Regions from separate parts of the Homo sapiens genome. Here regions 1 and 3 are each linked to region 2. The links come from fine-mapping of genetic effects on gene expression. A gene starts in region 2. Each other region holds a variant in brackets. All regions are shown on one strand. Distances are from middle to middle. Region 1 has its middle 6.3 kb from the start of XYLT2. Region 2 holds the start of MRPL27 (mitochondrial ribosomal protein L27). Region 3 overlaps XYLT2 (xylosyltransferase 2).

Region 1 (2,850 bases), 33 kb before region 2:
TGATAAAAGCTGTACCAACCCTGGTACTGCTGGAAGAGAAAAAGGAGAATAGAAGATTTTACCAATCCAACAGAATATAGTAAAGGGAAAAAAAGTGGAGAAAGAAGGCAGTGAGCAGAAAATGTGGAATAATCATAATCAAAGAAAATCCAAATAATCCATTAATGGCACTAAATGTAAACTGATTAAAGAAACAGTAAAACTTAGAGTATCAGATTGAGTTTTAAAAATCAAAATCCTCTTGTATGTTACTAATATTTTCCTTGAATTCTGAAATAATCTCAGCTATCATAGCTTCAATATTATTTCCTTGCCATTTTCCTTATTTTCTTACTCTGGAAATCCTGTTATACATAGTTTGAGTCTCTCAATCTATTCTCCTACTCTTCAAACTGTTCTTATTTTTAATCAAAGTACCTCTTTTTGCTGCATTCACTGTCAATTCTTTAGAGCTATCTTCCAATTCACTAATTTTATCTTCAACTATATCCAGTCTAAAGTTCACCCTATCTTTTGAGATATTTTTATTGCTTTTCTACATTTTTATTTCTGAGATGTATAATTATTTATATTTCATATGTATATCTTCATTTCATTTTCATCTACATTTGTTTCATAATTTCTTGTTTGTCAGATGATTTCTTCATTTACTTCTTTGAGCCATCCTTATTTTCAAGTCTTTGTCATATGAGTCCAAGAGATGAATTTCATGTGGAGAAAGTTCATATTCCAGTTGTTGAATTGCTTGGCTATCTTTTTTATCATTCCATTTCTTCATGTCCTTTGGAATTTGGGTTTACAGGCTCATTGTAGCTGAGAATTTTTGTTTTTGCATTGTGCTTTTTACTCTCTCCTTTTTTGTCTGGTGGGTTTAGTTTCGTCATGGCATTCACTGTGCCCTAGTCCAGAAATAGTTTTGTGATAGTGGTTGGGAACTCATGCTCTTCACTGATATTGGGAGATGTGCAGACCCAGAGTTAGAGGATGGCTTGACCTAAGTCTGGGTTGTGAGGCTGTTTTTGTTCTGCAGCCTTCCTAGGTCCACCATTTGGGCCATAGCTCCTGAGATCTGGTCAGCTGCACTTTTTGTTTTCAGTCTCCTTTCACAAGCAGGGTAGCCTCACTCTAGTCTGTGGCTGCTGCCAGAGTCTGGTTCCATCCCCCATTCCCTGTGCAACATTTTAGTTCCCATTACCCCATAGGCCCTTGGCTTTGGTCCTACTCACCACTTTGCTTTCCAGTTTGTTCTCTTTCTTATCCACCTAAATGTTTATCCTGTTTTTAAGCTTGTATATATCTTATCAATGCCTTTAAAAACTTTATCTCTCATTGTTAAGTAT[T/C]TGGAGAATAGAGAGTGGGTCAAAGTATGAACTTTCCAACCTTCCCCTCATTATTTTATTTATTAATTTATTTCTTTTTTGAGACCGAACCTAGCTCTGTCACCCAGGCTGGAGTGCAGCGGCCTGATCTTGGCTCACTGCAACCTCCACCGCCCGGGTTCAATTCTTCTACCTCAGCCTCCTGAGTAGCTGGGATTACAGGCACGTGCCACCATGCCCAGCTAATTTTTGAATTTTTAGTAGAGACAGGGTTTCACCATGTTGGCCAGGCTGGTCTCAAATTCCTGACCTCAAATGATCCACCCCCACTTGGCCTCCCAAGTGCTGGGATTACAGGTGTGAGCCACCACACCTGGCCTCATTAATGTTTCAGTCACTTGGAATGGAGTGGAGACAGAGTTTCTACTTCTCACAGTGGAAATATACTAGCCAATAGAATCTGGGGGTGAAAGAGCTGAGCACTGAGACTGCAACCCTGGGAGTCCAAGTAATGGGCACTTTGTCTAGGCTTAGTAAGCAGGTCAAGGAAGTGGATCAGAGGAGCAGTGAAAGCCCGTATGGGCAACTTCTAATTATGGACCAGCTTCCTATAGCAACCCCATGTAGAAGTAAGATGATTTGCAGGAGCAGAATATTCCATCACCAGTGCTCTTCAGCTTGGGTGTGGAAGCCCAGTTCATATCCCCGGGTGAATTACACGTGCCCACCCCACAGGCTTTTTAGACAACTAGAGGACCAAAGAGGAAGCGAATATTGCATATGGGCTCTCGGCTGGCTAAATAGAAAAATGAAAGATATGTGGACCTTTCATTTTTGGAACACTTCATACTGTTGACATACAATATAAATAAAATAACTGCAAAAGAAAAATAAGAGAGATGCAGTGGAGTGTTTACATTTTTCTCTAGAATAACATTCATAATGACGATGTTGATTCTGTTAAGTAAGAATTATAGGAGGCCATTGTTTTGTACTGAGCTCCTGCACTAGGCTCCAACAGACCAGACTAAAAATCAAAATGGATTCACTCATGCTGGGGTTTCAAAATTGATATTTTGTCCTTTAATACCTCTATTTTCCCCCTATTGGTTATTTTGTGCTATCAGAATTTTGTGCTATTTTTTGGCAGGAGATGGGAGGATGGTCAAAAGTCAAAATTACAACAAAAATAGTTTAAAGATCTTAATTGGCTTTATTTGTGATTCTAGAATCAGGCAACACTTCACCCATAAAATAGAAAAGTATTCCAGGGAGCCCAGCAGAGGAGGTTGGGCTTACAGACAGAGAAGGGCTGAAAACAGCAGATGCAATGAGCAAAGAGCATCTTCATTAATTTTCAAAGTTACTTTTTTGTGGTAAGGCAGGAATATAGAGACAGAACAATAGAAAATAACTGATGAGTGAACATCAGGTTACTTCAGGCTAACTTTGTAATGTAAGGATTAAAGCAGAGGGAACTTATGCCAATTAAAATTTTAAACTGGCCTGTTTGGGAAATTGGCCATTATTT
Region 2 (2,850 bases):
CCTTTAAACATCTATTCATTCATTTACATACTTACTAAGCTCAGGAGCTGGGCTTTTACTTTACTTACATTATCTCACTCACAAATCTTTGCTCTTCACCCTACTCCCCATCCTCCTCCTCAAAGTAAATGGTACCACCATTCATCCAGTTGCTTAGGCAGAAACCAGAGTCATTGCAGATTCCTTCTCTTTGCTGTCCTCACATATTGTTCACCAGCAAGCTCTGTGGATGCTAACTCCAAAACAGATCTCAAATTCATCCGTTTTCCTCCAAGTTCACTGCCACCACAAACATCTTGGCTAAATCATCTCTCCTCAGGGCTATTACGACTTTCCATTTGATTTCCTCATTTCCACTCCTATCCCCTTTAAATTTACATAAGAGCAATAGTTTGCTTCTCAAAATGTAAAACTGGCTCAAGTCACTCTCCTGTCCCTCACTCTACACAGGTCTAGGTCTCCTGTCATTCTTTTTTTTTTGGGGGGGGGGGATAGGGCCCCATTCTGTCACCCAGGCTGGAGTGCAGTGGTATGAACATAGCTCACTGCAACCTCGACCTCCCGAGCTCAGGTGATCCTCCCACCTCAGCCTCCTGAGTATCTGAGACCACAGGCAAGCGCCACTACACCCAGCTAATTTTTGTATTTTTTGTAGAGATGGGGTTTTGCCATGTTGCCCAGTCGGTCTTGAACTCCTGGGCTCAAGCGATCCGCCCACCTAGGCCTCCCAAAGTGTTGGGACTACAGGCGTGAGCCATCACGCCCCGCCTGTCATTCTTTAGGTTTTAAATGTTATCTCCTCAGAAGCCTTCCTTCACCGTCCAATCTAAAAAAAGACACACACACAGACACACATTATCCTTCTTCACAGCACTTGCCAGTCTACATCTACTTTATATGTTCATTTATTGCCTTATGCACCAGAGAGAACCGTTCGGGGGCTAGAAGCCAAGTCTTCACGTTTTCTGCTGATTTTCCGAACACCTACCGCCGTGTCTAGCACAAAGTAAGACCTCAATCTGCTGAATCAATAGATTAATTTTTTCAACCCCAATATGCCAATGTTACTAATACTTCTACAGAGAAAGGACCCACCCAAATCCCCAACCGCCAAGGAACCCGTCCGTGCTGCTGAGGCAGGAGAAAGACAAGTGCTCTTCAAACGCCCTCACTCACGGCTCCACCCAGGATGTGTCACGTGACCAGCGACACCGTCCCTCAAACCTGGAGTACCCCACACACTTCCCCTCGCATCCAAGGTCCTCCGCGGGGATCAGTGTCACCTCCTTCCCTCCCTGCTGGAGCTCCACTCTGCCTCCCCGCCTCACCCCGCTCTGACTACTGCGTCCCATTACCGGCTGTCCGGGTCCTCAGCGCCAACACCACCGACGCCATGCTTTCGATCACTCACTTCCGGTCTCGAAAAGTTTCTACTTCCGCTATCAGGAGATCTACTTCCGGGCCCTGCGTGGCAGTTGAAAGAGTGGCGGGAGAAGTTGCAGGTGAGCGTCCCCGGTCGCAGGCCTGCGGATTGGGCAGGGCTTCCCTCCTGAACACCGCTCTGCAGAATCTTGGTGGCTAAGGTGTCCAGGAGCCTCTGCAGCGGACCGCCAGCCTGAGAGGCGCAGAGCTTGTCGGGCAGGGGCCCGCTTGTCCCACTCCCCTGATTTGCAGATGTCAACGGAGGCCCAGCGAAGGGTCAGAGATGAGGCCCCCTCCCTAGTCATTCAACTTACTCTACTTAGCCAGCTGTGTGCCAGATGCTGTACTAAGCGCGGTGGATGCATTATTTTATTTAATTCTCACTACCTTATAAAATGGGTGCTGTTACCATCCCTGTTTTACTAAGGAAGAAACTGAGGCCTAGGCAGGTTACATGTCTCCTTCTGGGTCATACCTACAGTGTTAGTAAATGTTCAAGAAATGATTAGCTTTGCATATGACCCAGCAATTCTACTCCTAGGTATATACACGAAAGGGATTTGAAAACATACCCCCACAAAAACTTGTATGTCAGTGTTCATAGCAGCATTATTCATAACAGGCAAAAAAAGGAAACAAATTAAATGTCCAAGTGATGAATGGATAAACAAAATGTAGCATATCCATACAGTGGAATATTATTCAGTCATGAAAAGCAATTAACTACTGATACAGGCTACATCATAGATAAACCTTGAAAACAAGCTGAGTGAAAAAAGTCAATCACAAAAGGCCACATAGTGTATGATTCTATTTATATGAAATATCCAGAATAGGCAAATGCATAGAGACAGATTTATGGTTGCCAGGAGCTGGGGAGGGAGGGAAAGGACAGTGACGGCTTAATGGCTGCAGGAATTCTTTTTGAGGTGATAAAATAGTGATGATGGTTGCACAACATTGTGAATATACTAAAATCTACTGAATGTACACTTTTAAAAGGATATTATGCTGTGCAAATTATATCTCTATTTTTATTTTTATTTTATTTTTCTTTTGAAGCAGGGTCTCACTCTGTCACCCGGGCTGGAGTGCAGTCGTACAATCACAGCTCACTGCAGCCTTGACCTCCCAGGCTCAAGCAATCCTCCCACCTCAGCCTCCTGAGTATCTGGGACTACAGGTGTGAGCCACCATACCCAGCTAATTTTTGTATTTTTTTGTAGAGACGAGTTCTCACTATGTTGCCCAGGCTGTTCTCGAACTCCTGGGCTCAAGTGATCCTTCTGCTTTGGCCTCCCAAAGTGCTGGGATTATACGCATGAGCTACCATGCCCAGCCTATATCTCAATTTTTAAAAAGAACAGTTTTTGGCCAGGTGCAGTGGTTCACACCTGTAATCTCAGCACTTTGGGAGGCCAAGGCGGG
Region 3 (2,500 bases), 24 kb before region 2:
CTCCCTCACCTGACTCTGGGGTTGCCAGGCAGCATAACGGGGTGCATGGGAAGGTGAGTGCTGAAGCTGGACCACCCACTTCACCACTCTCTTCCAGCTCTGACCCTGAGAAGACCACCAGCAAATCACTTTGCCTCCTCCCTTATCCTTATCAGTATCCCTCCTCAAGATGGGGATAATAATGGCACCTCCCGTGTTAGGTGATTATAAAGATTAAGTGAAAATGATGCCTGTGAAGCACTTGCAGGAGTTCCTGGCACATGCTCAGCTGTCAGTAAATAAATAACTCTTATTATCCCAGCACTGTGCATTGGGAATACGATTCATTCATTCATTCATTCATTCCACAAATAGGTGTGAAGTCCTACTTTGTACTAGACACTGTGCTAATACTGGGGATACAAAAATAAAATAGATGAGGTCTCTGCCCTCATGGACAGGTAATCTACAGAGAGAAACAGACAGCGAAAAGGAATTTAATAGAATTACAAAGGGGTTGGCTTAGATCAGGGGGTCAGGAAAGGCTTCTCACAGGAAGAGGTGGGCAGGAGAGTTCAGGCAGAAGGCCTGAGGAGAATGGGCTTAGCTGGGCACCCTTGAGGAATGGACAGGAGGGTGTGGTGCTTTCCCTGAAAGAAGGTTCCATTCTGTGCGGCTGAAAGGACCAGAGCAAGGGGCAAGGGTTTTATTCTAAGTGCAGTGGGAGAGCACTGAAGGGGTTTAAGCAGCACAGGATTCAGTGTGCATTTAAGACGTGCACTCTGCCCATCTATGGAGAGGCTGAGAGTGGATCCCAGGGATGGTCACGAACCTCCAGAGAGCCACTTTATAGTTTCCAAAGCTTCCACAAACACCATCTCACCACTTGTTTTAAATGCAGCCCGAGAAGTCAAAGGAGGTGGGGTATGGGGGGAGCATTTCTGTGTTCACCCTTTCTGTGACTCAGAGAAGGATTCTAAGGTGGAGCTACAGAGCCAGGAAGTGGCAGAGGATTTTAATCGCCTCCTTGGAGGAGAGGAAGGAGCCTCTGAGGCCAGAATGTATCCCAGCCAGAAGTCAGAGGACCATTCCCTACCCTCAGTCATCAGAAGGGCTCCTGACCTCAGGGGCTGCTGGGGGCAGCCTGTGAGGGGCACAAGGCTGGGGCTGTGATGACGATGCTCCTTGGACATGCCTGGAAGGGATGGAGGTGGGGGCTGACTGCCCACCAGGGCCTCTGCTCCCTCACTGCTGCCTCCTCATCCCCCAGCCTCCTCTGGGATTGTCCTTCTCAGGGTCAGCCAGCTCCCACTGCAGTGCAGGGACCAACATGCCCATCTCCTCCCACAT[C/T]CTGGCCCCCACCACAGCCAACCTGGCCCCGTGCCTCATGCCCTGCCCTCCTGACCAGCTTCCTAACTCACTGATACTGGCTTCCACTCGGAGAGCCTACAGCTCTCTGCCATCTACCCACCTAAGCTTGGGAATGTCTTTCTCTGCTTGTGCTCTGTAGCCAGCTCACATGTCACCAGGCTGATGCACACTCAGCTCAGTGGGGCTGCATTTACCTTTCCTAGGGATTCCCCAGCCTGTGGTGCCCTCCCCAGTGTGGGTAGAGAATAGGGTCTGCTGCCTCCTCTTGCAGGTATCTCTTCTCGGATGGGAATGGGCGCCCCCAGCTCCCACTGGCCACCTTTAAGAGATCAGAGGGCAACCGGGCACTGTGGCTCATGCCTGTAATCTCAGCACTTTGGGAGGCCAAGGTGGGAGAAGCGCTTGAGTCCAGGAGTTCGAGACCAGCTTGGATAACATAGCAAGACTATCTCTATTAAAATAAATAAAATAAAAAGATCAGAAGGCTGGCTGGGTGCTAGGCACAGAGGGCATGGATGTAGGCATGGGGCTCTGGCCTGAAGGTAGCTGTCAGCCTGACAGCATGAGGTTCCTGATGTGCCCATACTGGTAGTGGGTAGGGTGTGGGTAGGGTAGTGGGTAGGTTGGGGGAAGTCCTGGGGAGGTGAGGAGCACAGAGAACCCAACCCAGCCGAGTCCAAGATGTCCAGGATCTTGGGTCTCTCTTGACTTCACGTTTGACTAATTTCCTCCTCCCATCTGAGTAATCATAATGATAAAGATAGCAGCATTGGGCCAGGTATGGTGGCTCACGCCTGTAATCCCAGCACTTTGGGAGGCTGAGGCGGGCAGATCACTTGAGGTCAGGAATTTGAGACCAGCCTGGCCAATATGGTAAAGCCCAGTCTTTACTAAAAATACAAAAAGTTGCCAGGCATGGTGGCACATACCTGTAATCCCAGCTACTTGGGAGGCTGAGGCACGAGAATCGCTTGAACCTGGGAGGCAAAGGTTGCAGTGAGCTGAGATCACGCTACTGCACTCCAGCCTGGGCGACAGAGTGAGACTGCGTCTCAAAAAAAAAAAAAAAAAAAAAAAAAGTACCAGTACTTACTGAATGCTGTGCCTATGCCAAAAGCTTTGCATTCATTCATTCATTCATTCAAAAAAT

The links. PIP is the estimated chance that this variant, and not a neighbour inherited with it, causes the effect.
Region 1: its variant is fine-mapped to the expression of MRPL27 in whole blood (TOPMed, PIP above 0.99).
Region 3: its variant is fine-mapped to the expression of MRPL27 in whole blood (TOPMed, PIP above 0.99). The same link has a PIP of 0.9 or more in nasal epithelium.

Annotation. Positions count from the first base shown.
Region 1 is chr17:50,338,401-50,341,250 of GRCh38, forward strand. No RefSeq gene overlaps it. Among named protein-coding and RNA genes, the nearest start is that of XYLT2, 6.3 kb to the right of the region's middle. The variant T/C (reference allele first, on the strand shown) is at 1,341.
Region 2 is chr17:50,371,776-50,374,625 of GRCh38, forward strand. MRPL27 (mitochondrial ribosomal protein L27) reads right to left here and starts at 1,409. Exons shown (of 4, transcript NM_016504.3): 1 at 1,356-1,409. The coding sequence starts at 1,395. EME1 (essential meiotic structure-specific endonuclease 1) reads left to right here and starts at 1,454. Exons shown (of 9, transcript NM_152463.4): 1 at 1,454-1,502. RefSeq lists enhancers at 943-1,412, 1,553-1,772.
Region 3 is chr17:50,347,779-50,350,278 of GRCh38, forward strand. All of the region lies in intron 1 of XYLT2 (xylosyltransferase 2), which reads left to right. Among named protein-coding and RNA genes, the nearest start is that of XYLT2, 2.9 kb to the left of the region's middle. The variant C/T (reference allele first, on the strand shown) is at 1,330.